Linked DNA regions of Homo sapiens: all the other regions are reported to be linked to region 6. Evidence: microRNA targets listed by miRTarBase, many of them from high-throughput screens and not tested one by one. Region 6 holds a microRNA gene; each other region holds the end of a gene's coding sequence.
Evidence for each region. The annotated mature microRNA hsa-miR-431-5p reads UGUCUUGCAGGCCGUCAUGCA and lies in region 6 at 3,687-3,707, shown strand. An mRNA with a match to its seed (bases 2 to 7 or 8) in the 3' UTR can be bound and repressed. Matches are read on the target gene's strand: a 7mer-m8 pairs with bases 2 to 8, a 7mer-A1 pairs with bases 2 to 7 and ends in A, and an 8mer does both.

Region 1 (5,449 bases), not on the chromosome of region 6:
CCATTTTACCTTTGATTCAGCCAGGCCAAATTAAGGATTTAGGTCCTATGCTAAGATGGTCAGGGCCTCAAAAGGTGGAGAATTTGAATGATGAAATAAGGTATTAATAACTACTATTAAGCACTTCCTTGGAAGGCTTAGTATAGGGTTAATAACAGGATTTGGAATCAGAGAAAGCCAAGTCTGCCTTCCTATTCAGCAACTTACCAGCTATATGACCTTGGGTAAGTTACTGAATTTATCTGTAAAATAGGGGTAGTATTCTTGCGGTGGTAGTGATTAAATGAAAGAGTGCATGTAAAATCCTTGCTAATTAACATTTATTGACTGCCTACCATGTCCTAGACTGTTTAAAATGCTTTCCATGTACAGTAGTTTCTTTATTTTTTGAGACAGTCTCACTCTGTCACCCAGGCTGAAGCGCAGTGGTGCGATTTCAGCTCACTGCAACCTCTGCCTCCTGGGTCCAAGCAATTCTCCTGCCTCAGCCTCCTGAGTAGCTGGGATTACAGGCGCTTGCCACCACGCCCGGCTAATTTTTGTATTTTTAGTAGAGATAAGGTCTTACCATGTTGGCTGGGCTGGTCTCGAACTCCTGACCTCAGGTGATCCGCCCACCTCAGCCTCCCAAAGTGCGGGGATTACAGGCATGAGCCACTATCCACTGCATGTACACCTCCAGGAGAAGCAGGGCTGCACTGAAGTGGAGACAAGGGATGGAGGTGAAGGGAGAAGCATTCTAGATGGAAGCACTTAGCATCTGGTGAATGAGCAGAAGTGATGCTTTCAGAGAGAGTTCAGATTTCATTGTAGAAGCCCAAGCAGCAGCCGGGCATGGTGGCTCACGCCTGTAATCCCAACACTTTGGGAGGCTGAAGCGAGCGGATCATCTGAGGTCAGGAGTTCAACACCAGCCCAGCCAACATGGTGAAACCCCGTCTCTACTAAAAATACAAAAATTAGCCGGACCTGGTGGCACGCTCCCGTAATCGCAGCTACTCGGGAGGCTGAGGCAGGAGAATCACTTGAACCCAGGAGGGGGAGGTTGCAGTGAGCTGAGATTGTACCACTGCACTCCAGCCTGGGAGACAGAGGGAGGCTCCAACTCCATCTCAAAAAAAAGCAAAGAAAAAAGCACAAACAGCACTAAGATGACCCCAAGGGGAATAAAATCACTTCCAACATCACTTCCATGGGTTGCCTGCACTGACCCCACAGACAAGTCTCCCTTAGTCCCTGTGCTTCTTCAGAGCATCTACTACAACTGTAATTAATTATTGCTTAAGAATTAAATTCATGTCTAAACCTGCTAGACAGGCAGCACCATGAATTGTTCACCATCTTGCTCACCACTATTTGGTCCATATTTGTTGAATGAATGGATGGATGAACACTACATACAACTGTTACCAAAGATGACACCAAAAGAAATTAATTCCTCCGATGAAGTGAATTAATGAAAAAAATAAGTGAATGAAAAAGTGCGTGGTCAAGTGCAGTGGCGTGTGCCTGTAGTCCCAGCTACTTGGCAGGCTGAAGTGGGAGGACTGCTTGACCTAGGAGTTTGAGTCAAAGCTGGCAACACAGCCCAGCCTTATCTCTTAAAAATAAAAAAAAAAGGGAATAAATGACAGCACTGGTTGGGTGCTTGTGTTTCGAATGTATCTTAACTGCTTTCTAAATTCAGTTCCAATTAGGTTTTATGCGAGTGATTACTTAAGAGGAGGCTCCTCTCTCCTGAGTAACTGCACCTTTCTGCTGGACCTTTCAGTGTTAAGAACAGCCACGTGGCTTGTGAATCATTTGGCAAACCTGCAAAAACATTATACACACACGTATTCATTACATATGTGCACACACACACACATTCCACACATCACCACCAGTTTCATATTTGGTTTGAATAAGACTTTTAATTTACTTTATTTATTTATTTATTTATTTTTTTGAGGCAGAGTCTCACTGTTGCCCAGGCTGGAATGCAGTGGTACAATCTCGCCTCACTGCAACCTCTGCCTCCCAGGTTCAAGCAATTCTCCTGCCTCAGCCTCCCGAGTAGCTGGGATTATAGGCATGTACCACCACGCCCAGCTAGTTTTTTTATTTTTAGTAGAGACGGGGTTTCACCATGTTGGCCAGGCTGGTCTTGAACTCCTGACATTAAGTGATCCGCTTGCCTCAGCCTCCCAAAGTGCCGGGATTACAGGCATAAGCCATCGCACCCAGCTAATTTCTTTTCTTTTCTTTTTTCTTATTCAGTCTCCGTAGAGACTGTCAAAAATTGCCAGCGCTGATTATATTTCAAGTCATCACGGTGGGGTATTGGGAAAATTTCCAATTAGCAATAATCGCGTCTCGGATAAATCTCATTGGCTACGGTACTGCCACTGCAAAGCTAGCTTGACGTAGGACTTTGATGGTCATGTATAACACCTCACAGGGGCAGAACCTCCTCCATCCCCGACTCCAAAGACTCATGTAATCAGTACGCAAGAAAGTTCAGAGATGAGACCTCTGGTTGTATTCCACCTTTGGGACATGGGGGATGTCTTTAGTTCAAAGTCACAAATAAATGCAGGTTCTACAATTCAGAGGCTTCATATCCCTGCTGGAGTATTACATGTTTATTCAGGATGGACCACTTTTCTTAGCAACAGTTTCTAAACCTTTGCCAGGTCTGGGAAGTCTGGCAGGAGAGATTTCTAAGAACCAATCATTCCTGCACACACTTCTTGAAGATAATATACATTATTCCCTAGTTATCTCTTCCTAGGTTTTTGTAGGCTCATTTCAATATTACAACAATCTTTATTGGAAAACCCCAAGTATTTTGTCTTGAAAAATCAGCAATCCAGGTATTAAAAATAGCATGGAATGCCCAATTTTACTTTGATAATTACATGGTAGTCAGTTTCCGCTCCTGGCTAAAGCCTTGGATTTTCTTCTGGGCAGTTCCTAAAGGCACAGGTGGCATGGAAGAAATCATTCCATTTTCGTCTCCTCCCCTTATTTGATTGGTGTCTGGTTACCAAAAGAGTCATCAGGCCCTTGGATTACCTTCTTGAACTGATCTTCTAGATCGCAAGTCTAGGTTTGACACAGGAAAGAGAAGTTAACGCAGGCACACTCTGCCCCATCTCTACAAGGGAAAGACCAGCTTGCCTTCAAGATTCCATAGCTTCTCATGCCTTCTTTGCCTCTTCCTTTTAGTTTCTATAATCCTTCCCTTGAACTCCCATCACTGGAAGTCATCAGTAAATGCTATCCCCCAAAAATAAATGGGTTTGCTTGTTTGTTTCCTGCCCAGAATTCGCTCTCCTGGCATCAGCCCCAGATTTTCTTTAGGAAGTCACCCTTCCCTACTCTTGGTCCCTATGGTCTTCATGGTTGCACCACCTGCATCTACAGATGAAATCATGTGATCAAGGGAACTGCCACATTTTTGCACCCACAACAATTGGTTCATAGACGGGGACATCACCCAGTCAGATCCTATGAAACACCGTGAGAATCCTGGGTCCCTCAGTCTTTCCCACCAGACTGACTCTGAGAAGATATAAGAAGTTGATAAAGCTGTCTTGCACTTATTAGGCAGAGTCTATTGCAAAAGGAACTAACATGGGTAAGAACGGAACTGAAAGAAACCGGGTTCTGGTGACACTGTGAGTTCCTGCGTTAGGCAAGGCCTAAAGCAAGAATTATTCTTGGAATTTTGTTTAAGCCAGTTTGGATCCAATTTGCAACTGAAAAAGTAATGGACACATGAGCAATTCTTACACTTGTCTTAGGATATTTCACCAGAAATAAATTAGTGTCTTATTCTGTCCCAGTTTAATTACTCACCAAGACTGCCATCATGTTCCCCCAAATGCAAAAAGCCTTGTTGCTGAAAAAGAAAAAAACAAGCAGCCACGTCACGGAGGAAGAATGCAGATTCTGGGTCTTGTCACATATTTGGCACAATTTGTGAGCCCCTCACCATTTTATAGAAGTTAAGGGATGAGAGATTAAGGCCAAGTCTCCGCCATAGAAATATTGAACATGTTTTGTTTTTTAGGGAGAGTGATTCCATTCATTCATTCCACAGATACTCTTTTTTTTTTTTTTTTTTTTTTTTTTGACAGAGTCTTGCTTTATCTCCTAGACTGGAGTGGAATGGCATGATCTCGGCTCACTGCAACCTCCGCCTCTCGGGTTCCAGCGATTTTCCCGCCTCAGCCTCTGGAGTAGCTGGGATTATAGGTGCCTGCCACCACGCCCAGCTAATTTTTTTTTTTTATTTTTAGTAGAGACAGGGTTTCACCATGTTGGTCAGGCCGGTCTCAAACTCCTGACCTCAAGTGATCTGTCCACCTCGGCCTCCCAAAGTGCTGGGATTACAGGCGTGAGCCACCGCACCTGGCCGTTCCACAGATATTCACTGAGCATTCATATTATGCCAGGTAATAAATTAGGACGTGGGGTGACAAGTGCACAGACGTGGTCCTCACCTTCAGAGAATCTACCTTTAGGCCTCTAGATCCCTTACCTAAATTGTGCTGACAGTATAAATTTGCACAGATGGTAAATTACTTGTCAGTCACTTCTGTCAAGATCACAATTTCCAACATAAGTGGTATTTGCGTTAAGGTGGATTTACTGTTCATCTGTATTTTCAGGACACTCAGGAAGCAAGCAAGGCTTTGGAATTAGAGCAGGGTTTCATGTATCTTTATATTCTCTTGGTAAGAATGAAATTGATTAAATCTTTTTAAGGGAATGATATAGCAATATCTATTAACATTGTCATGTACGTGCTTTGTGGCAGAAATATTCACAAAAAATAACTTTTTAATTTTTTTTTTTTTTTGACACGGAGTCTTGCACTGTTGCCCAGGCTGGAGTGCAATGGTGTGACCTTGGCTCACTGCAATCTCCACCTCCTGGGTCCAAGTGATTTCCTGTGCTTCAGCCTCCCAAGTAGCTGGGATTACAGATGTGCACCACAACACCCAGCTAAGTTTTCTTGTTTGTTTGTTTTTGTTTTTTATATTTTTACTAGAGATGGGTTTCACCATGTTTGCTGGGCTGGTCTCGAACCCCTGACCTCAAGTGATAAGCCCGCCTCGGCCTCCCAAAGTGCTGGGGATCACAGGAGGGAGCCACTGTGCCCAGGGTAATTTTTTTTAGAGAGAGGGTCTTGTTCTGTCTCCCAAGCTGGAGTGCGGTGATGGGATCATAGCTCACTGTAGCCTCAAACTCCTGGGTTTGAGCAGTCCTCTCACCTCAGCTTCCTGAGTAGCTGAGGCTACAGTTGCATGCCACCGTGCCTAATTATTAAAATTTTTTAAGGGATGGGGTCTCGCTATGTTGGTCTTAAACTCCTGGCCTCAAGCAGTCCTCCCCTCCCACCTCAGCCTCCTGAGTAGCTGCGATTATAAACGCACAAAAAATAATTGTAACAAAATGT
Region 2 (3,000 bases), not on the chromosome of region 6:
TATTAGAACAGTAAAAAGACAAGAAGAAGAAGATCTCCTGCGAGTAGAGGAGCAGCTAGGCTCTGATACAAAGGCAATTGAAAAGTTAGAAGAGGAACAGCATGCCCTCTTTGCCAGAGATGAAGATCTGACTAATAAACTTTCCGACTACGAACCCAAAGTTGAAGAATGCAAGACACATTTGCCAACAATTGAAAGTGCTATTCACTCTGTTCTCAGAGTCTCTCAGGATCTGATAGAAACAGAAAAGAAAATGGAAGACTTGACTATGCAGATGTTTAATATGGAAGATGATATGCTGAAAGCAGTGTCTGAAATAATGGAGATGCAGAAAACCCTTGAAGGAATTCAGTATGATAATAGCATATTAAAGATGCAAAATGAACTGGATATTCTAAAAGAAAAAGTTCATGATTTTATAGCATACTCAAGTACAGGAGAAAAGGGAACTTTAAAAGAATATAATATAGAAAATAAAGGAATTGGTGGTGATTTTTAAATTCATGACATTTATTCTGATGAACCATATCATTATACATAAATTGATTAGTCCATTGATTTTGAGTTACTTTGATACGCCTCATCTTATCCTACATTATTGGAAAATAAATGAGATGTCCACACAAATGGATTATCCACATAATCAAAGCTTATCTTTTTAAGCACTAAAACTTACTTCATTGTAACTATTTGAAATAGAAATAGTTCTTTAAAAATATTTCTCTACTTTTAAAACAAGATACTTAATATTTTTAATGTTTTTTAAAGCATTAATGAACATCATCATTAATTTCACCTATTATATTGTACCCACATATATTGATGTCTCCAGGGGCTAATAAAGAGTATTTACCACTTCACTAAATGACCCCAATTTGCCATTTTCAAACCTATGTCTCATACCTTTTCTGTCACCTGAACTTACTGTCAGGTTGGTTGGTAATGTGCCTGCCTCAGCCAGTTCACTTTCTTAGGTAATTCACTGCAGGTTAAGAATCCACACAACCAAGTTCATGGGAATTTTGTGTAAAATAAAAGATAACATGCCTGAGGGAGAGCCTGGTGCCTTTGCTATGAATTAATATGCACTTTCTGAAAACTCTAAAGCCTGGGAAACATTTTAGTTTTTGTTAAGGTTCTAAACTGTGTTACAGATACTTGTAAGACTTTTAAAATCAGAGTAAGTATGTTCTTACATAAGGCCTTTCTTAGGAATTATGTGTATATAAATCTTTGAAATATCTTTATATACCTGAGTTTTAGGTTCCAACTGTGTTAGACATGAGTTTGCTAGATCCATGGTCTCTAGATGGTTTACTTAAATAGGCCAGGCGCAGTGGCTCACACCTGTAATCCTAGCACTTTGGGAGGCCGAGGTGGGCAGATCACGAAGTCAGGAGATCAAGACCATCTGGCTAACAGGGTGAAACCCTGTCTCTACTAAAAAATACAAAAAATTAGCCAGGCGTGGTGGTGGGTGCCTGTAGTCCCAGCTACTCAGGAGGCTGAGGCAGGAGAATGGTGTGAACCCGGGAGGCAGAGCTTGCAGTGAGCCGAGATCGCGCCACTGCACTCCAGCCTGAGTGGCAAAGTGAGACTCTGTCTCAATAAATAAATAAATAAATAAAAATAAGCCTGTGGCCTGTTTTGAGGGAAAAGTAACATAACTCTGATAATTAATTATGATAATAACTATGATAGTTAAAAATACGTCATTTTAAAGATTTCCCAAACCACACCACTAAATTTGTTTTATGAATTGATTTTATTTTATTTGAAATTATATAATGTAGTCAACTGCAATATGGAAGTTTGTTCTTGTTTCTTTGTCAATAACCTTACCAGTTTTATAATGCAGTTTTTGATGGAATTAAACACAAAGAACTTGAAAGCAGTCAGTTACAAAAAGGTAGTTGTGGTCAAGTAGTTTTAATATGTAAATTTGCAAGTTTTTGGAGAACCCCCAAACTCCTTCTCCACTGGAGTTAGGAGGGCCTGTGGTAGACAGCGTGAATCATGAAAATAAGCCTGGAGAGTTCTGTTATTAAGGGGCATAGCATTAATTTTTGCAGTCTTAAAATTACACTTCTTGACTTCTGAATGTCTCTTATTTGCGTGCACTGACAAAATTCTATTTGTTTACTTTTATATTAATGGTAATAAAATAGATTATAAAGTAAGCTGGAACTTTGTTGTTTTAACCTCCATCCTGTCAAGGCAAATGTGATCTCTTATCTTATATCCTTTACGTTTAAATATTTTTTTCTCACCGATCACCACATTTAATATGAGGTTATTATGAACTTATATATACCATGGTAATGGTTACTGAAAGTAAATGGAAACAAGGTGGCTACTGTTCTCTATAATGACACAAGGGAAAGGAAGAAAACTGCACTTCTACAAGTATAACATGAGAAAACTATTAAAGTATATATGCGTTTGTATGTATGTATAGATATCTAGATAGATATATCCTGTATTTATGAAGAGGTTTTCCTATTAAGAAATTATTAGAGAGATTTAGATGTACTTAATTTGTCTTTCTCTCTTTCTTCCATTCATTTATTTAACACAGATGCTTAAAATTTCAAAAACTTTCCTGTGTATCAAATATTAAATTACATTGTTAGTCTTTTCTTTAGGGAAAATTACCAATATCCTAAAACACATTTTTGTATCTTTGTAACTGATAATAAATTTTATGTCAATTAATTTCTTATAAAGTGGCCAGGCACAGTGCCTCATACTTGTAATCCCAATACTTTGGGAGGCTGAGGCAGAGTGGCTTAAGCCCAGGAGTTTGAGACAGCCTGGGTAACATAGTGAGACCTCGTCCCTACAAAAAAAAAAAAAAAAAAAAAAAAAGTGTAAGGAGGAGTAAGGCCAGGCACAATGGCTCACTCCTATAATTCCAACACTCTGGGAAGCTGAGGTGGGAGGATCGCTTGAGCTCAGGAGTTCAAGACCAGCCTGGATAACATGGTGAGACCTCATGTC
Region 3 (5,058 bases), not on the chromosome of region 6:
AACTTCAAAATTTTATTTATTGCACACTGAGGTGTCAAGAATCCTAAGTACACTAATACTACATTGTAGACATAAACCAGGTAGAATAATGCTTAACACAAGAAAATAAATACACTTGAAGTGGAATTTCTGGCATTAGTGACTAGCTGATGTTAAAAAGCTGAATTTACCCAGAATCCACAGAGATAATGCTGAGCAGTTTTTTAGAAAGTTGGGGAGGCTTATTTCTGTTGTTTCCCTTGGGTGTTTATTTCCCTGTACCTCTCTCAGTCATCACTATTTCCTTGAACAGGGTCCAGAAACAGACTCATTTCTGGCATGTAACACATGAATATATAAAGGCGTACCATATTTATTCTTGTCAAGTACCCTGATTTACCAATCTGCAAACTAAGTTTTCAGATTGATAAATGTGAAACTGGATTCAGTTATTAAACTGGATCAAGTTTCAATCTGAAACTTAATAACTGAATCCAGGAAGTGTCAGTTAAATGGTCTTAATTAAAATGATAGTTGTTCAGAATGGCAAAATGAATCATACTGGAACACCAAAGGTCTGTTTTGCATTCGCTGAAGAAAGGTTACTTTTAGTAGGATAATTCTATAAAATGTAACTTGCATAGAAAGGCTTTATTATGGGTTCTGTCTGTCACAAATAGCATCAAATCAATCATCTCAGTTCTGGAATATGAGATTCACTACATTAAATTAATACTTTCATTCCAAAATAGAAATTCATATTTTAAACCACTGAAATTGATATAAACCACTGCTTTAATATTGTAAACCTAAATGTCCAACTATAATGACCAACTTATCTAATAATGAAAACTGCAGTAGCAGAACTATTAAGCAGATCTTTATAATTAACTTATGAAGACTATTTAACATAGAAAAATATTTATATGTAAAAAACACAGACCCAAATTACATATTCTCTATAAGTATATGGTTAAAAAACCTGCAAGAAAATATACCTAAATGCTAATGTTCATTGCATTCAGATGATAGAATTATGGATTTTATCCATAGATTTTTCTTCTAGATTTTATAGTTTTTAAAAATTATGATGCCCCTTATATTTATATTGGGAAATATACATTTAAACAAACTATTATTTGGCTACCATGCTAATATTCACAACCATGTGGCACTAGCCTAAAATAAACTTTTCAGAAGAAACTAAATTATTCTATCTAAATATTCTGGGAAACGTTTAAGTGATATTGGAATCTCTATCAAAATTTCCACACCAGAGTGAAGAAAGACAAATTAGATGTGGGATGAAAGTTGTTCTCACTGATAAGTGAGAGCTAAATGATGAGAACACATGGACACATAAAGGGCAACAACACACACTGGGGTCTATTGGAGGGTGGAGGGTAGGAGGAGGGAGAGGATCAGGAAAAATTACTAATGGGTACTAGGCTTAACACCTGGGTGATGAAATCATCTATACAACAAACCCCCATGACGTAAGTTTACCTATGAAACAAACTGGCACATGTACCCCTGAACTTAAAAGTTGTTAAAAAAAAAATTTTTTTAAGAGAGATGAAAGTGACTCAAGAAGCTGTGTCACCAAATCTTTGAGAGCTATGTCACCAAATCAAAAAATAACAGAAAACCAGACAAGATCATAAGAAATCATTTGCACAATCAAGTGGCATCATTCCAAACCACTGGAGGAGCAATGCCCGCTTTCTTTTTAAAATTCTCCTGGGAAAATTACTCCTCAGCCTCCTTTATAAATCCTTGAGGAAATGTCAAGTTCTTTCACGACAAGAAAAACTCTCAGCTGGGCACAGTGGCTCACACCTGTAATCCCAGCACTTTGGGAAGCTGAGGTGGGCAGATGCTTGAGCTCAGGAGTTTAAGACCAGCCTGGACAACATGGCAAAATGTAGTCTCTACAAAAAGATACAAAAATTAGCTGGGCATGGTGGTACATACCTGTAGTCCCAGCTACTCAGGAGGCTGAGGCAGAAGGATCCCTTGAGCCCAGGAAGTCAAGGCTGCAGTGAGCCATATCATGCCACTGCACTCCAGCCTGGGCAAAAGAGCAAGACCCTGTCTCAAAAACAAATAAATAAATACAAACGCTTCTTTACGAAAGTCTCACAAGTTTAGCTGAAAAGAGATATGGACTCTCACATACCTTATTTCAGATCTAAACATGAGTTCCTCATCTATAAAATGGAGCTAATATCACCAATACTATTGGATCATGAACAGAATTAAACCAGTTATTGGTAAATCCCCCAAAATAATAAACAAGCCATGTTTATTCCCTCATTCTATCTTACCTCTTCTCTTAGTGTTTCTCACAGTGTGGAATACCACCATTGCATCAGAATCACTGAGCACTCGCCACAAAGGTTGGTTTCATAAATCCCAGAGGCATCATGGTCCCTCTTTTTTTTTTTTTTTTTTTTTTAGAGACAGGGTCTTGCCCTGTTGCCCAGACTGGAGTACAGTGGCACAATCAAGGCTCACTGCAACCTCTGCAACCTTCTGCCTCCTGGGCTCAAGCAATCCTCCCACCTCAGCCTCCTAAGTAGCGGGGACTACAGGTGGTGCCACCACACCCAGCTAGTTTTTGTATTTTTTTGTAGAGATGGGGTTTCACCATGGCACCCAGGCTGGTCTTGACCTTCCGGGCTCAAGCAATCCGCCCACCTCAGCCTCCCGAGACTATAATCCCTGCTGGGATTACAGATGTGAGCCAACATCCCTGGCCTTAATTCTTTTATTATTTAACAAAAATTTTTTAGAGATAAGATCTCTTGTCTGTTGCCCAAGTGGGAGTGTAGTGGCGCAATCATAACTCACTGCAGCCTCAAACTACTGGGCTCAATCAATCACCCTGCCTTAGCCTCCCTAGTAGCTGGGACTGTCGGCCCACACCTGGATAATTTTTTATTTTTTGTAGAGATGAGGTCTTACTATGTTGCCCAGGCTGGTCTCAAACTCCTGGCCTCAAGCAATCCTCCTGCCTGGCCTCCCAAAGTGCTGGGATTACAGGCTTGAGCTACCACACCCTGCCATGACTCTTTAATTCTGCATTTTTGTCAGATACTACAAGTGATCCTTAGGTACTGTAAAGCGTAAGGACCATTAAAATTAAACTATTTTAATATATTTTATTACCTCATTAGGCTCAGAAACAATTAAAAATCTTCTTTCCCCCTAAAATACTTTAAAAACTTGAAGGTGTTCCTCAAGGACAGGAAAGTAAGATCTGGGGCCCTCCTATTTTAAATTAAAAACCCAAATTATTTGACCCATTCTTCTAAGGGTATATATTGTTCATACTTCAAGCATCTGTCTTCCTCTCTAAAGCCTCCCTAGTTTCTTCATCTGTCTACTTAGGAGCAACTTAAACTAGACTATAATCTATCACAGCTCAAAAAGAAAAGAGTACTTACTAAATGATCCCAAATTAAACTCGTTTAAAATTAATAAGTCAAATAAAATTAATAATTCCATTCTTCTTAGATAGCCAGTAGGAATAGCAGCTTCTTCCAAGCATGAGAGAATGGGTGTGCCTTTTATGCCCAAATCAAGAAATACCAAAAAACAAACAAACAAACAAACAAAAAACTGTCATGAATTTTAGTATCTTATTAATTTCTAATTAGATTTTAACTTCTAATTTTGGTAAGTAGTTCAAAATAACAACAACAACAACAAAAAAAAAAACACCTGAAACTAGTGGAAAAAACTTCCACAGCTTTATAATATCGTAGCATTCTTTACACAAAAGTCAATTCCTAAACCCTCAAATTTCAGAACATAAAAATAAATTTCCATTTACAGATTTCCCCCTTCCAGTTCCAAAAGTAGTTATTCTAGAGTAAGTATTCAACACATAAAATTTAGCTGAATCAAATAAAAAACAATCACCAAATGCAAATATCAATTCCAAAGCACAGATTTTATATATACTGCTTTCATATTTCCCTTTTGCTTCTTTTCTAGATAAAAGCAGGAAATTGTAAATATTCACTAAAAAACTCGAACCAAGCACATTGGCCTTTTCAAGTAATTCAGAAAAGGTAGATCATCAAGAGAAACTCCTGAGACACAGCAGTCTTCAGTGCATTCACAAGAGCCTCTGACTATAAGCTTTCTCTAGTTAACCGCCAGAAGATGGATTACTTGTGCTATGCATGCAGATGCACTCAATTTCCTTTACCAGATAAGCTACAAACACTCTACTACCAACCAAACTTGTCCCTTCCATCAAAACATTTTTCATACTCTTTAGCAAAGTAGTCACCCCTCCTAGGAGAAGCTAATTCAAATACACTCATTAGCATCTTTGGTTACAAGAGCAATATAGTGTGTAGATGCAGTTAAGAGTTCTACCATGGCTAAGTCAACATTGGATAAAATCCTATAGGTAGATATAAATGTAACCTGCATTTTCTAAGCTCCTTATAAGTCATCATATTAAGTCCAGATCTTTTTGAAATTTTATACTTATTAAGGGCAGTCATCTCTCACTGGGGCCACTTTCTGTAACTCAGGTCAATTGAGAAGGTCATTGAATATGATTCCTCCAGTCCCTTCCAAGACAGGCTAGGTTTCCAAGGGGCACACAAAGGACAAGAACATGTCCAGCTGGTTCTTCACAATAACTTCATCTGGATGCAGCTTGTGCGGTAGATAATGGGCCAGGGTCATCTCCCAGGCATCGACGAGATATACTCCAACCCCTGAGAACATCCTCCGAAGGATGGTGTCCAGCTGAAAGTTGTACCAGTCGCTGTTGAAAAGGCTCACCTCAGGTCCCAGCTCTTGGGCGTTGGCCGTCCGGATGACCACCACGGTCTTTGGGCTTCGATCGAGGAGCCGAACCACTGCTCGACGGATGTTCCTGAGCCGCCGGATGTACACTTCCAAAGGGAAGGTGCTGAAGTGAGACCATACAGCTATGGCAACCACTGTGTTCTTCCCTCCCACAATGCCATTCAGCTCATTCGCCACATAATGGAGCTCATTGCTAAAGACAGTCGTGAAGCGGATGGGTGGACCATGGCAGCGGTATTTGAG
Region 4 (5,142 bases), not on the chromosome of region 6:
TACTAGAATAATTATTAAAATAAATCATGGCCCTGTCATATAATAGAATACTATGGAGTTTGGAAGAAAGCATGATGTAGAATATTTAATTATATGGGAAAATAATCAGTAAATCTTTTTAAAACAGAAGGTAAAACTATACATAGTTCAATATAGTAAAGAGGGCCGGGCACAGTGGCTCACGCCTGTAATCCCAGCACTTTGGGAGGCCAAGACAGGTGGATCACCTGAGGTTGGGAGTTCCAGACTAGCCTGGCCAACATGGCTAGTCTCTACTAAAAATACAAAAATCAGCCAGGCATGGTAGCAGGCACCTGTAATCCAAGCTACTTGGCAGGGAAGGCAGGAGAATTACCTGAACCCAGAAGGCAGAGGTTGCGGTGAGCCAAAATCATGCCACTGCACTCCAGCCTGGGCACCAGAGTGAAACTCTGTCTCAAAAAAAAAAAAAAAAAGAATTTAGTAAAGAGGTGGGTAATAGGGGTCCTAGAAACAAATACACCAAATTTAACAAGCTAGAAACAATACAAAAAGGGAAAAAGAAAAATCCCTGAAATCCCACCACCCAGAAAAGAATGATTAACATCTTGGTAAACCTGTGTCACATATAAAACTCCAGAGAAAGTTTCATACTATAAAAATTTTTGGAATTCGACAATGTTCAGTAGTATATTGTAGATACAGTTCTTTGTCAGTAAACAGAAATATTATTTTGTTTTGTGGAGGGGGTGATTTTTATTTTTATTTTTATTTTGCTTAGTATTCTGTTATGTGGATATAACTTTTTACTAATCTCCTTTTGATATTCAGGTTGTTCCTAATTTTTTTACCATTATAAGAAACACTGAAGTGAATATTCTTATGTATACAACTATGAAAGCATGTCCATGTCATTATTTGCTGTTTAAATTTTACCTGGGGCCATTATCTCTAGATTTGCTTGAAATGCTCAGCTTGACTCCCTATCTTGAGACAAAACTACTAGAAAAATGAATTTGTAAAGCAAATTAATATATTTAACATAGAGTTTCTTCAGCAATATGCTGTAAAGGCAGGGTGGTGGTGGTACACAGGTTGCACTGGATTTTTTTTTAATGGCACATTTTTAAAACTACTGCTCATTTTATGCTTGATATAGATTTGGCGTTTACCTTTTCCTAACATATAGGCAAGCAGTAGTTATTGCTTTGTTGGTAAAAGTTGGCGTTATTTCTGAAAAGCATACGTGGGAATGGCAAACTGTAGAAGCTGTGGCCACCGGACTCCAGGTAAGTAGTGCCATCTCTGAATTCAATAGAACTTTACTATTTGTTAAGCATTTTTACATATCTCCACTAAACCTGACAACACACAGGGTATGGGGCTATTATCCTCACTTTACAGGTGAGAAAACAGGGGAACCCTAGAGAAATTGGCCATAATTACTAATTTGTAGCAGATCCATGAATAAAACCTGGATTTCATTATTCCTAAGTCCAATTCTCTTTCCACATTTCTCCTTGTAGTCCTTGGGTGGTGGAATGCAATATACTTGATGTGATTGAGAATGAAATGTACTTTGCTAAGAAATACTTGAGGCTGGCCTGGTGCAGTGACTCACGCCTGTAATCCTAGCACTTTGTAAGGCCAACGTTGGGGGATCACTGGACCAGGCATTCGAGATCAGCCTGGGCAACAAAGAGAGACCTCATCTCTACAAAAAACTAAAAAATAAAATACTTAGCCAGGCATGACAGCACATGCCTATACTCCTAGTTACTTGGGAGGCTGAAGTGGGAGGATTGCTTGAATGCAGGAGTTCAAGGCTGCTACTTGAGGAAGTGCAAAATAGATTCACATTTTGGCATTTTGTCTTTTTTTGAAGGGGTCAAAAATAATTATTTTAGAAAATGGAAAAATGAATATAATCTGAGAAGAAAAAACACAGCTGTTTATCTTAGCACTTTTGAAAAGCAAGTAGAGAAAGATAGCACTCTACAAACCTAGATTTAAATCCAAAGGTGGCTGTTATCTTATTGTTGTTCTCATAGGATTTTATTATCTGTATTGAGATGTTCCTCGCTGCCATTGCTCATCATTACACATTCTCATATAAACCATATGTCCAAGAAGCAGAAGAGGGCTCATGCTTTGATTCCTTTCTTGCCATGTGGGATGTCTCAGATATTAGAGATGATATTTCTGAACAAGTAAGGCATGTTGGTAAGTACCAGCTATTTAATTCAACCAAATAGGTTGGGTAGGATATTGAATTTCTCCTACTAGGGCAATTTATTATCTATTTAGAGATGAAAAAAGACTTTAAAGCAGTACCACAGTGCAGGCTCATCAACTTTGGGGAGTGGGAGAGGGGGAAGTGGGGAGCTTATTTTTAGAATGGTAAGTTTATAATGGTAAAAATAACTTTTGACTAACAGAAAACTTTATATTAAAGGACGGACAGTCAGGGGACATCCCAGGAAAAAATTGTTTCCCGAGGATCAAGATCAAAATGAACATACAAGTTTATTATCATCATCATCACAAGATGCAATTTCCATTGCTTCTTCTATGCCACCTTCACCCATGGGTCACTACCAAGGGTTTGGACACACTGTGACTCCCCAGACTACACCTACCACAGCTAAGATATCTGATGAAATCCTTAGTGATACTATAGGAGAGAAAAAAGAACCTTCAGATAAATCCGTGGATTCCTGAACAGTATGGAAAAGCAAACTGTGCAACTACTACATTATATCATTACCTGGTATCCCATGGATTTTGTGCTTGGGACAGACCATAAATGATGGAAAATGTCAACACAAAAATAGCTGAAAGCCAGGTACAACTACTGCATTTATATATGTAAGTTTTGTATATCAAAAATAATTGGTCTAAATTTCCTAGACTTAGACTTGATTTCTTAACATTAGGGTATCGCATACTCAAATGGTAGACAATGACCCCAACTAAATCTTCCTGATGTTACACTGCTTTATCAAGAGGATGGACTTTTTTTTTTTTGAGACAGACAGAGTCTTGCTCTGTCACCCAGGCTGGAGTGCAGTGGCGCAATCTCGGGTCACTGCAAGCTCTGCCTCCCAAGTTCATGCCATTCTCCTGCCTCAGCCTCCCAAGTAGCTGGGACTACAGGCACCTGCCACCATGCCCAGCTAATTTTTTTTTTTTCAGTAGAGACAGGGTCTCACCATGTTAGCCAGGATGGTCTTGATCTGACCTCGTGATCCGCCGACCTCGGCCTCCCAAAGTGCTGGAATTACAGGCGTGAGCCACTGCGCCTGGCCAAGAATGGACATTTTTTAAAAAAACATCAGTACTTCCTACCACTGCTGCATGAGTATAATGCTCCGGAATTATCAGAAAGCATAATGCAGAAATACGAATTAGTGGAACTTAATCATGTGCCATATAAGCTTACCTAACAAACAGTTATATCCCTATTCCTCAACTGAATGTCTTTCAATAAATAAGAATTTATCATTTATTTTCTGCAACTTTTTTATGTCTCATTCTTTAAACATTAAAAACCCTTAATATTTTAACAAAAATTTCTTGATTAGAGGCACAGTGAAAAAGAAGTCAAAAAAAAAAGTTCTACTTTTCATCAGTGCTATTAAAGGTGGCAGCAAATGTAAATCTTGGCTGAATGGTCTTAATTACTCATTAAACCACAGTCAGAAAGACATATAGGTGCTATTTGGGAAAACTTTTTATTACCTAGGATGGGGTTTCTCTAATTGCTAATCACAACCCCACTGGGTCATGTTTGACATTTTATAATGAAAATAAAACAGAAAGTGCCATAGTATGTTACAGAAAGCAAAGATGAGTATTGTTTCTCAAAGCCTTTGCTTTATGTATTTATACACATACTCATTCATATCTATCTATATATATAGAGAGAGATAGTGGTTCACAGTAATCATACAAAGTCTTTATTCCATCCACTATTATAAACATTTCTATTAAAACTAAAACTGGGCTCTATGTAAAAACCCCAAAGATACACACACAAAAAAAATCTGTTTGTTAGAACTCAAGTGAATTCAGTAAAGTTGCAGAATACAAAATCAACATACAAAAAGCATTAGCATTTTTATACATAAATAATGAAAATAATGACCTAACTGAAAAATTAAGATGCCATTTATGATAGCATAAAAAAAATACTTACTTAGGAATAAATTTAACACCAAGGCAGTAAAAGATCTGTATGTACACTGAAAACTATGAAACACTGATGAAAGAAAGACACAAATAAATGGAAAGGTATCCCGTGCTCATGGATCAGAATAATACTGTTAAAATGGTCACACTACCCAAAGCAATTCAGAATCAATGCAATCCTATCAAAATTCCAATGGCATTATTTACACAAACAGAAAAAAATCCTAAAATTCATATGTAACGATAAAAGACCCTGAATAGGCAAAAGAATACTGAGGAAAAAATGTTGGAGACATCACATTTCCTAATTATAAATTATACTACAAAACTATAGTAATCAAGACAGTATGGTACTGGTATAAAAACACATACACAGGCCAGTGGGACAGAAGAAAGAGTCCAGATATAAATCCAAACATACACAGTCAACTAATTTTTGACAAAGACACCAAGAAGACACATCGGGGAAAGAACAGTCTTCATTAAGTGTTCTTAATGAAGATGCTGGGAAAACTGCACTTCCACATGCAAAACAATGAAATCAGACCCTTATCTTAGACCTACACAACAATCAATTCAAAATGGATAAAAGACCTAAATGTAAGACCAGAAACTATAGAAGAGAACATAGGAGAAAAGTTCCTGGACACTGACCCTTGGCAATGATTTTTTGGATATCACACCAAAAGCTCAGTCAACAAAAACAAAAACAAATGTGACTACATCAAACCAAAAAGCTTCTGACAGTAAAAGAAACAGTCAACAAAATGAAACAGTAGCCTACAGATTGAGTAAAAAATATTTGTAAGGCATATATATGGAAAAGGGTTAGTATCCAAAATTTATAAAGAATTCATACAACTCAATTTTAAAAATGGGCAAGACCTGAAAAGACATTTCTCCGAAGACGACACACAGATGGCCAACAGGTATATAAAAGGGTGCTCAACATAATTAATCATCAAGGAAATG
Region 5 (5,343 bases), not on the chromosome of region 6:
TCCTGGCCTCAAGCCATCCTCCTGCCTCAGCCTCCCAAAGTGCTGGGATTACAGGCATGAGCCACCGTGCCCAGCCCAGTTCTTCCATTTGATCAATCCCTTTCTTTTTTGTCAGTGCTTTTTTGTGTCATGCTTTATTTAAAATGTTTATTTTAAATTATATATTAACAATTATTTACTAACATTTATTATTTTTGTGATTTTAATATTTTTTCTTTTCCCGAGATCATGAAGATATTCTTCTGTGTTAATTTCTAGAAGCTTTATTATTTGGTTTTTATGTTTACATTTACCATCCTCTTAGAATGGATTTCTGTGCATCATATGAGTTAGGGTTTATATATTTTTTTTCTCCTAAAATGTACTAATGCAGAATCTCCTCTTCCTCACTGCTTTGCAAGACCACCTTTGTCATAGAAGAAGTGCCCATATGTGTCTTCACGTTGCCAGCTTTACAATCAGTATCTTGAAATTTTCTCTAGTTTGATCATAATACATTAAACACATATCCCATCAAAGGCCATTGGAAGAATGTGGGCTGTTTCTGACTGGGCTTCACCTTCAACTTACATTTCCTTGAAAAAATAAGTCTTAGCTCTAATATCCATTGCATGGAATTTCTCCCCAGACTACTAAGTATAAATACATATAAATATATGTATGTGTATATATCTTTAGGTATAGATAGATACAACTTATGTTTATAAGAAAAGCGCATTTAGTAAAATAATTGGTTGGTGATTGTTAATTTTACTACAAGTTTGGCTCTATTAGTTTTTCAGAACGTTTTTGTCTGAATCATTTCGCTCTGTCTGTCTTAGGTCTTGTGTCTGTACTTTGTAAAAAGCTAGAGAAAATTCACATAGTACACCCATTGATTGGTAATTTTTTTTTTGTTTTTTGAGACAGAGTCTTGCTCTGTCACCTAGGCTGGAGTGCAGTGGCATGATCTCAGCTCACTGCAACTTCTGCCTCCCGGGTTCAAGCGATTCTCCTGCCTCAGCCTCCCGAGTAGCTGGGATTAAAGGCATGTGCTACCATGCCTGGCTAGTTTTTGCATTTTTAGTAGAGACAGGGTTTTGCCATGTTGGCCAGGCTGGGCTCGAACTCCTGACCTCAAGTAATCCACCCGTCTCGGCCTCCCAAAGTGCTGGGATTACAGGCATGAGCCACCGTGCCTGGCATAGGTATGTTGTTTTTTAGATATGTTAAAAATTTAGTTTATAGTAAAATCTTATTGGCCTGAGAACTATTTTTGTTCCTTGAATATTTTTTCTGTTTTCTTTTTTCCACTGAGCAATTAAATATTGGTTCACTCTTAAATCCTCACAGAGAACTATTTTTCTCAAGTTCTTGGTGACATCATAATGTTCTCAAATATACCACCTGCAGAAATCTGCCCTAGTAGTAATTATAGCTTGCTTTGTGACTCTGGGCTTTCTCCTCAATTTTGTATTTATTCTCACATTGTCTTTTTTCTTTTTTAGCTGTTTCCTGTGTTGTCTTCCTAACTTGGCAACTTCTTAGGGGCTCACTGCATTCTTTAAATGCAATGTTTATAGTACAGATTCTTTTCTTTTCTTTAAAATCATACTTCCTTTTCCTGCCCTTAGTCTGGCCATCTTTTCTCAGCAAGAATCACAAGTGGGACACATTAATAATTTTTCATAACCTTTAGTTATGTAGAATAGAACATTATTCAAGTCCTTGCACAACTCTCACTTTCAGCATTTCAACATAAAGAACATTTGAATTTTTAAAATTTTCTTTCAGTCGAGGATTACTGGTTTGAAACAAAGATGTCAGCCCTAAAGCAAAGCACTTCTGAAGCATCTGTTCTGGGAGAGCGAACGAAAAGTGTCATGATGGAAAAAGGCCTGGACTGGGAGGGCAGAAGCTCCACAGAGAAGAACTATAAGTGCAAGGAATGTGGGAAAGTCTTCAAATACAATTCGTCCTTTATTAGCCACCAGAGAAATCACACCAGTGAGAAACCACATAAATGTAAAGAATGTGGGATCGCCTTTATGAACAGTTCATCCCTTTTAAATCACCATAAGGTTCATGCAGGCAAACAGCCTTATAGATGTATTGAATGTGGGAAGTTCCTGAAGAAGCACTCAACGTTTATCAACCATCAGAGAATTCATTCTAGGGAGAAACCCCACAAATGCATTGAATGTGGAAAAACTTTCAGAAAGAACTCAATCCTTTTAAGTCATCAGAGAATTCATACTGGCCAGAAACCCTACAAATGTAATGACTGTGGGAAAGCCTTCGCTCAGAATGCAGCTCTTACTCGTCATGAAAGAATACATAGTGGAGAGAAGCCTTTTAAATGTAACAAGTGTGGGAGAGCTTTCAGGGATAATTCAACTGTGTTGGAACATCAGAAAATCCATACTGGTGAGAAGCCATATCAGTGTAATGAATGTGGAAAAGCCTTTAGGAAGAGCTCAACTCTTATTAGTCACCAAAGAATGCATACTGGGGAGAAACCCTATCACTGCAGTAAATGTGGAAAATCTTTCAGGTATAGCTCATCCTTTGCTGGTCATCAGAAAACTCACAGTGGAAATAAACCGTATCAGTGTCGTGACTGTGGGAAGGCCTTTACAAAGAGCTCAACCCTTACTGGACATCAGAGAATTCATACTGGAGAAAAACCCTATCACTGTAAGAAATGTGGGAAAGCCTTTCGGCACAGCTCAGGCCTTGTTGAACATCAGAGACTCCATACTGGGGAAAAACCTTATAAATGTAATGAATGTGGGAAAGCTTTTCCCCGAAGTTCAGCCCTTAAGCAACATAAGAAAATTCATAATAAAGAAAGAGCCATGAAATGTAGTTAGTGTGGCAAATTGTGCAGAGTAGTTTATTCCTTCTGACCATCATAGAGGAGACATTAAATAAATTATGCATTTAACAGAAATACTCTGTACTTCTGAGAGAACACATCACTTGTGAGGATATTCATTGTGAGGTTCTACTAGTGAAATATTTGAAGAAACTAAATGTATGTCAGTATGGAAGTAGTTATAGCATACTGTGTGCTAATTGAAAAGAATGAGGTGGAGCTGTAAATACTGTACAAAGCCAGGCATGGTGGCATATGCCTGTAGTCCCAGTTACTTGGGAGGCTGAGACAGGATTGCTTAAGCCCAGGAGTTTGAGTCTGTAATGCACTATGATTGTGCATGTGAATAGCCACTGCACTCCAGCCTGGGCAACATAGCAAGACTCCATCTCTAAGTAAAAAAATACAACAGTAGAAATATACCCATGATAATATACCCAATATACCCTTGTTAAAGAAGCAAGTTTCAGGAAATCTATATTATATGCATTCAAAAAGACCTGGACAAATAAAGACCAATCTTAACAGCAGTTATCTCTCTCTCTCTCTCTTTTTTTTTTTTTTTAAAAGAAACTAGCTCTTACTCTGTCACCCAGGCTGGAGTGCCATGTGATCATAGCTCACTGTAGTTTTGAACTTGGGCTTGAACAACCTTCCCACTTCAGTCTCTGGAGTAGCTGGGGCTACAGGCACGTACCACCACACTCAGCTAACAGCAGTTATCTTTGATGAGGATGTAGTATAGGTTGAGCATCCATAACTGGAAAATCTGAAATCTGAAGTGCTCCAAAATCCAAAATTTGTCTGAGCACCAACAGGTACAAAATTCTACACCAGACCTTATGTGATGGGTTGCAGTTAAAATGCACCCCCGGCCGGGCGCGGTGGCTCACGCCTGTAATCCCAGCACTTTGGGAGGCCGAGGCGGGTGGATCATGAGGTCAGGAGATCGAGACCATCCTGGCTAACAAGGTGAAACCCCGTCTCTACTAAAAATACAAAAAATTAGCCGGGCGCGGTGGCGGGCGCCTGTAGTCCCAGCTACTCAGGAGGCTGAGGCAGGAGAATGGCGTGAACCTGGGAAGCGGAGCTTGCAGTGAGCCGAGATTGCACCACTGCAGTCCGCAGTCCGGCCTGGGCGACAGAGCGAGACTCCGTCTCAAAAAAAAAAAAAAAAAAAAAAATGCACCCCCAAGATTCCTTATTATTTGCATGCAAATATTGCAAAGTCCAAAAAAGTCTGAAATCCTAAATACTTCTGGTCTCACGCATTTCAGACAAGGGATACTCGACCTATATTGGTATGATGAAGTGAAATTATGACTTTGACTGAGTTCTTTGAAATGAAATATTTAATCAAGCATCATTCATGTATCTTCTGTAACTTAGTATAGTTATCTTCCTATATAAGAAAACTCAGAAGTCATAAAAATAAGACAAATGCCACACAGAAACTAAAAGCTTTTAGTTTCTGCAACTAGAGGCTTCGTAGTATTAAAATACAAAGGGCTGGACTTGGAGAAAATATTACCATCATCATATTTAACAGGTAACACTTAGACTATTTAGAGAGTCCTTAAAATACATAAATATAAAAATTCCAGTGGAGAAATGGTCTTGGATGTGAATGTACAGTTGTCAGAAAAAGAAATATAAATGATTATGCCTACCAACTTTGACCTTTTGACCTAACATTTCTACTTAAAATCTAATTAAAAAGTAAAGGTGGTCTTTACAGCATTGTAGTAATGAAGAGGTGGAATCACTGTAATATCTGTCATCAGAGGAATGTTGAAGATACATGCAGTCTTTGGACTACCATGTAGTCACTCAACATTTAATTAAAAGACAGTCCTTTAATTAATTAACATTTGGTGAGTTAGACTTTTATGAGCTGACAGGCAAAGTTGTCTATGACATTAAGTTGAAAAAGATCCAAAGTAAAGAATAATGGTATAGTACTTCTTTTGTATAGTCAATGCATTGCCTGAATATTTTGTGATAAAAATATATCATGGATATAGTTCACAATGTAAAAGCAATAAAGCAAACTTAGGAATGTTATAAAATAGAAAAGAAAGGATCTAAGTATTCAACTGATGATTGCAGAGGGCCAGATTTAATCAAAAGAAGCACGGCTGCACACACATAGATGATTGTTGGTAAGAACTGGTTAAGCTGCTTTGGATAACAGTTTGGCAACATGAATGTAAATGTAAATGTATGTTCTAATTGACCCAGAAATGCCACCCTCAAACATTTAAGGAAATAATTTGACTAACTTACAGAGCTTGTATTGCTCATCGTCATTGGTTATACTAATATCCTGGAAAGAGGTGGGAGAAATATCTAAGTAGGGAAATGTTTAAATAAGTTATGAAACTCTCATAGGCTAGCATCCCAGTTACTACAGATGTATAATAAACCGTCACACACTTAGTTGCCAGTATTTGTGTTCACAGATTTTGTGAGTCAAGGATTCAGAA
Region 6 (5,449 bases):
TACAGGCGTGAGCCACTGCACCCGGCCTTGCCCCTCCATCTTTGATGGCCAGGAGGAAAGGATGGCGGTCGTCGACGGTCCTGGCTGCAGGGACACGGGGACTGCCAATCCACCCCACATTTACCCAAGGAGCCCTTACCAAGCAGGGACAGAGATTTGCCATTAAAATCCAGCCTCTGGGACCCCCCAGGGGTGGCCTTCAGGAGACCTGATCTAGGGACCCTCCATTATGACCCCAGGCTCTATCCCAAGGTAGTTTACTTCAAGGGACTTGGGAGCCCCAAGAAGAATGTCATCTGGGAACAGAGGGGGTTTTAGGAGCCAGCGGCCCTTGGAGACTGGGTCTGGTTATTCTGGAAATGACCCTCCCTCTCACTACATCCCCCATTTGATGATGGGAAAACAGGCTGGAAGATGGACAGCCACTACCTGAGGTCACCCAGCAAGTCAAAGTTGGGGCCTTCTGGGGCCAGGTCACTAAAGGGGATCTGCACCTCTTGCAGCTGAGCCCCTGGCCTTAACCCATGGCAGCCTGTCTTGGGCTGCCATCAGAGGCAGAGTGCTAGGTGAACGGACAGACAGACATGGTGCCCTTGAGCTCCTGGAGCTGCTGTGATGTTGGTTGTTGTGGAGGTCATTGCTGGGCCTTGTGACTGGAGGCAGAGTGGGTGAAGTGGCCCAGGTGAGAGGACAAAGATCAGCCACCAGGAAGGGGCCTCCATCCTGGCTCTGTCCTCAGCTCCTCTGCAGCCGGTTCTGGGCCTTGATTTCCCCAAGTTTACCTTGGGAAATTGACATGAGAAGTCTGTGGATGGGGCTGGGAGCTCTGAGTGCCAGCTGTGCCCAGCAGTTTATTCCTAACTCTGAATCCTCACAGCAGCCTTGGTGGGTTGGAGTGACAGATGAGGAAACTGAGGCTGGGAGAGGCCTTCCTGCAGCCAGCCAGTGGAGGGAGAGAGAAGCCCAGAGGTGTAGCCCCTGCCTTTGAACCTGGAGATCCTGACCATGATCTCCTGGTGCTGCTATCAGGGGTAGATTCTTCAGACAGGTGGATGGTGGGTGAAGGCCAGGCACCCCTGGGGACTTGTGAGGGCATCGTGAGCCCTGTGTGGGGCTGGGCAGTGCAGGGAAGGAAGGAGGCTGAGCTTGCAGTGCCAGCCTTGGGCTCCCGTGGGGTGTGTCCTTGGTCAGGGGCTCCCCACTGTGTGCCCAGTGGTCCTGGTCCACGATGGGTAGGAGCAGGAGGCAGAGCCACACTGTCTGGAGGCTGTCATGCTCCCGTGCCTCCCCTCGAGGACACAGTAGGGTCTCTTCCATGTGGGAGCTGAGAACTCTGGGGCCAGGTGGAAATGGCTTTCCTAGGGGATGGGGTGGCTCCAACTCAGGCTAGTCAGACCCCTGCGGGGCCCCTGAGCTTTGAGCCTGAGATCTGTTGGGTGGTCTCACGGTGTGTCTTCAGGAGCAGGTTCCTCAGCAGGGCAGAGAGGGCAGAGCTGGTGTGTCCTGGCATGGGGGCCCGTGTGCACAGAGCTCCAGTGTTTTTGCCCTCCTAGATGAAGTTCAAGGTCATGCTGAGAGAGGCCCACGGCTCCTTCCCCTCTGTGTCCTCGCAGAGCTCTCACCTGTGGAGGGGTGCAGTGGGGCGGGGGTGCTCTGGGAGGTTGGAGGCCACTCCTGGATAGGTGTGACCCATGGCCAGGAAGAGGGGTCAGCATGTCCTGGACTGTGGAGGGGGAACTCAGAGTGGGTGAGTGCCACCTGCCCTACCTCCCCAACTCCCTGTGGGACCCCTGGCAGCTCCCCTACCCAGGGCAGTGCACCCTCACCCTCACAACAGCCATTTTGCCACTTTGGGGACAGCATGACCCTCTGAAATGGGACCCAGGACTTTTCCTCTCGGAGTGGGGGTTAGGGACTGCTTGAGACCAGGGCTTGTGGACCCTGCAGTGTGGGGCTCAGACCGCACCTCGTTAATCACATGGCGAGGAGGCCAAGGCCAGAGGTGGGAACTGGGTTTCGGGGCTCCCTTTTCTGGAACCCTTAGGAGAGACAGCCCCCACTCCCCCGCCTCCCACTGCCCTAAGGCACCTCTTCTGTCCTCTCTTTGACATGAGCCTGTGGGGGGTGCACGTCCCTGGTGGCCTCAGTGGGGGTGGGTGCCTTCTCATGGCAGAAAGAAGTGCCCAGAGTCTTGGTGGGGACGCCTTCAGGAAGGTTGGGGGAGGCCTGCTGCCCATGTGCCAGGCCCCCAGGGGCTGTTTCAGGGCAGAGCGTTTCCTGCCCCCACCCTTCCTGCCCAGTCCACTTGCCCCCTCGTCCACCCCACCTACTCCCTCCCTCCTCCCATGCGTGTCCCCTCCCCCGCCTATCCTCCCACCACCTCCACTTTTAGAACAAACCCCAAAGTCAGACAGTCTTTTAGTTTGCTTTATTTGAGGAGTGCAAAAAGATTGGGGGGTGAGAAAGCTCGGGGGGTGGGGAAGGGTCTACTCCCCTTGCAAAGCGGTGGTGTGGCCAGAGCCTCTCTGTGACTCGGCATGGTCCCCTGGGTGTCTGTGTGCCTTCTGGGACTCCATCCCTGTATGAGGGGCCCCTGCACCCCTGCACTGTCCAGTGTTCAGTGTTGGGAGGGAAAGGCGCCCCAAGGCATGCAGGGGCCCTCTTTGCTGTGCAAGTCTGGTAAGTGGCACTGGTACGTCCGGATGCCCCAAAGAGCGGCTTTGTCCAGGTAAGTCCAGAGCTCAGGGCAAGAGGAAGGCGGGGTCAAAAAAGCTGAAGCAGATGTGGTGGGGGTGGGGGTGGGTTTGCTTGCAGGGTGTGATGGGGGTGAGGGAGGCACCACATCATCAGATGTCGGGAGGTTGGGGGATGGGGGTTGGGGGGCGGGGGCGGGAGCTCAGGGGAGCAGGAGCACCGGCAGTGGAGGTAGAAGAAGTCAGTGGAGCACCCGAGGTCAGTGTCCCAGGGTGGCCATCACCAGGCCGGGTGGGGGGCCCCGTCACCTGCTTGCTTGGCTGCGCCTGCTGTGCCTGCTTCTTCATCTGGCCACGCGTCATGGGGTCACTTCCTGCTCACCACTGCTTTCTCCCTCATGGATGTCACTCCCGGGCATGGGCTTGGGACCTGGAGAACGGAGAACTCGTAGCCCAGGGCTGGCGCTGGGTCTCTGAGGACTGGGTAGTCCGTTAGCACAGGTGGCATTGCTGGTTGATGAGTTGAAGAAGTTGTTGCCCTTCACAAGTGGGTTCCTCTTGGGTCAGGAGTGGCAGGAAGGGAAGCGAAGCAGGCTGAGGCGCGGGGAGGCCAGGGGACGTCGGGAGGTGTTGGGGTGAGAAATAGAGGGGACTCTTTGCTGGAGACAGGGAGGCGTCTTCAGTCGAGGTTAGCATCTTCGTCCTCATCAGGCAGCTCTTCTAGCCTTGCCTGCTCCCTGGGCTGGCTCTCCCAGGCGGGGATGGGCAGGGCCCGCCTGTAGATCAGGGTCAGGAACTGGCTCAGGGCCCTGGCTGCCTGCTCCCGGCTGAGCAGGTGCAGCTGGCCATCTGCACTGTGGATGTGGAGCAGGCGGCTACCAAGGAATTCCAGGACCTGGGGATCCATCAGGTGGCGTGGGCGGGGTGGGTGGGTGGCTGCTGTGTGGCTGGGTGGGGCCTCCTGCACGTCGTTGTCCTGCTTGTCCTGCGAGGTGTCTTGCAGGCCGTCATGCAGGCCACACTGACGGTAACGTTGCAGGTCGTCTTGCAGGGCTTCTCGCAAGACGACATCCTCATCACCAACGACGTGCAGCTCCAGGTAGCGGTTCTGACGCAGGGCAGGGAGGTGGCCCTCCTGGGGGGTGACTCTGACACCGAAGAACTCACACAGCGTCAGCCAGAAGCCAGGGGTGAACTGCAGGCCTCGGTGGGCCTGGGAGTGCAGAGCATTTCGCTGCCAGCGGCCAGGGCCCAGGAACAGCTCAGCCAGCTCCTGGGCTGGGATGGTGTTTGCACCTACGAGAGCGGGCATCTGGGTGAGCAGCTGGGTGATGGCTGTCGTGATGCTGCTGCCTGCGATGAGGGACGAATCCAGGATGAGTCGTAGGGAGCGCTGGGGCTGGGGCCGAGCCACCCGCATGGCGGGTGCCGGCCGCAGCGAGAGGCATTGCCTCACGCGCAGTAGCACGAGGATGGCTGCCAGGGCTAGGGTGTTCTTCCAGTACAGGAGGCCTCGGAAGAAGTGCAGAATGACGGCCCTGATCTGGGCCATGCTGAAGTGGGCGAGGAAGCTGTTGAGGATCTGGTCGATGGGTATCATGGCCAGCAGCTCTTGCCGTAGGATCTGTTCATTGAGCTCATCCTGTTCTTCATTCTCTTCTTCCCCGGATTCCGTCGATGGATCCCTGGGGAATCCCCTTGAGGCCAGCAGCAGGGTTTGCCTGGCGGCAGTGTTCCTCTGGAAGGCTCTCCTCCACCGGAGGTTTCTCACAGGTGGCAGAGCTCGGCCGCCGTCTTGTTCTGGCAGCTCCATGACGTCAAAGTTGAAGTGGGAGAAGAAGAAGACCCAATGCCCGGGGAGAAGTACGGTGAGCCTGTCATTATTCAGAGAGGCTAGATCCTCTGTGTTGAGAAGGATCATGATGGGCTCCTCGGTGTTCTCCAGGTAGCGGCACCACACCATGAAGGCAGCCCGTATTGGAAGAATCTTCATCTCCGCTTGAGAGTACTCAACCTCGATAGGGGAGATGTTGCGGGAGTAGAAAGCGCAGCAGGCTCTCTTGCCGGTTTGGTCGTCGATTTGGATCAGGGAGGCGTGCAGGGCCGTGCCGGTGACGCCGGTTTCCAAGTAGAATGGGTTCTGGGGCTTGGGGTGGTGGAGGAGAGGCGCCTTGCGGAAAGCCCTCTTCAGGCACTCGAAGGCCTCTTGCTCCTCGACTCCCCAGTAGAACTGGTAGGAGCTCAGCAGCTGCCGCACCAGGGGCTCTGCGATGATGCTGAAGCGCTCCACGAAGTGGCGGTAGGGGAAGACGAATTCGATGAAGTTTCGCAGAGATAGCTTGGAGCCAGGGGTAGGGTACCCTGTTATGATGGTCATGACGTTCTTGTTCAGTTTCACCCCTTTGGGGGTGACGACGAAGCCCAGGAATTCCACGGTTTGGCGGTGGAACTGGCTCTTGTCCAGGGAGCAGTAGACGTTGTGATGGCGGAAGCGGACCAGGACTTGGCGGACGTGGTGGAGGTGCTCCTCCTGACTCATTGAGTAGATCAGGACTTCCTGGCCATAAGAAAGCACAAAGAACCCTAGCATGTCCTTTAGGATGAAGTGAATCACGTTCTGAGGTATGATAGGGTCTGGGGAGAGCGCAAACGGCTGGTAGCTCTTCATCTCTTCAAGCTCCAAACCAAACGCTGCTTTCCACACATCTTCGGTGCGGTGCCCGTTCACGCTTTCCTCCACAATGGTCCCACGCAGC

Region 1: miRTarBase lists TMC5 as a target of hsa-miR-431-5p. Seed matches in the 3' UTR shown: 7mer-A1 at 2,832-2,838.
Region 2: miRTarBase lists IKBIP as a target of hsa-miR-431-5p. The part of its 3' UTR that is shown has no 7-base or 8-base seed match.
Region 3: the mRNA of NXPE3 is a reported target of hsa-miR-431-5p. Seed matches in the 3' UTR shown: 7mer-m8 at 2,447-2,453.
Region 4: miRTarBase lists TMEM184C as a target of hsa-miR-431-5p. Seed matches in the 3' UTR shown: 7mer-A1 at 4,509-4,515.
Region 5: the mRNA of ZNF485 is a reported target of hsa-miR-431-5p. Seed matches in the 3' UTR shown: 7mer-m8 at 3,235-3,241.

The regions. Positions count from the first base shown.
Region 1 is chr16:19,495,558-19,501,006 of GRCh38, reverse strand. It overlaps TMC5 (transmembrane channel like 5), which reads right to left. Exons shown (of 22, transcript NM_001261841.2): 21 at 3,844-3,886; 22 at 1,894-3,087. The coding sequence ends at 3,041. It also overlaps the pseudogene RNU4-46P. Among named protein-coding and RNA genes, the nearest start is that of TMC5-AS1, 10 kb to the right of the region's middle. RefSeq lists a silencer at 4,286-4,497.
Region 2 is chr12:98,623,429-98,626,428 of GRCh38, reverse strand. IKBIP (IKBKB interacting protein) reads left to right here. Exons shown (of 3, transcript NM_153687.4): 3 at 1-2,180. The coding sequence ends at 499. Among named protein-coding and RNA genes, the nearest start is that of IKBIP, 20 kb to the left of the region's middle.
Region 3 is chr3:101,821,481-101,826,538 of GRCh38, reverse strand. It overlaps NXPE3 (neurexophilin and PC-esterase domain family member 3), which reads right to left. Exons shown (of 8, transcript NM_145037.4): 8 at 1-5,058. The coding sequence ends at 4,585. Among named protein-coding and RNA genes, the nearest start is that of NFKBIZ, 26 kb to the left of the region's middle.
Region 4 is chr4:147,631,735-147,636,876 of GRCh38, forward strand. It overlaps TMEM184C (transmembrane protein 184C), which reads left to right. Exons shown (of 10, transcript NM_018241.3): 8 at 1,169-1,268; 9 at 2,031-2,202; 10 at 2,435-4,987. The coding sequence ends at 2,700. Among named protein-coding and RNA genes, the nearest start is that of TMEM184C, 17 kb to the left of the region's middle.
Region 5 is chr10:43,614,518-43,619,860 of GRCh38, forward strand. It overlaps ZNF485 (zinc finger protein 485), which reads left to right. Exons shown (of 5, transcript NM_145312.4): 5 at 1,774-3,387. The coding sequence ends at 2,852. Among named protein-coding and RNA genes, the nearest start is that of ZNF485, 11 kb to the left of the region's middle.
Region 6 is chr14:100,877,340-100,882,788 of GRCh38, forward strand. It overlaps MIR431 (microRNA 431), which reads left to right and starts at 3,668; the gene lies at 3,668-3,781. It overlaps RTL1 (retrotransposon Gag like 1), which reads right to left. Exons shown (of 4, transcript NM_001134888.3): 4 at 2,414-5,449. The coding sequence ends at 3,373. It overlaps MIR433 (microRNA 433), which reads left to right and starts at 4,547; the gene lies at 4,547-4,639. RefSeq lists a silencer at 1-66.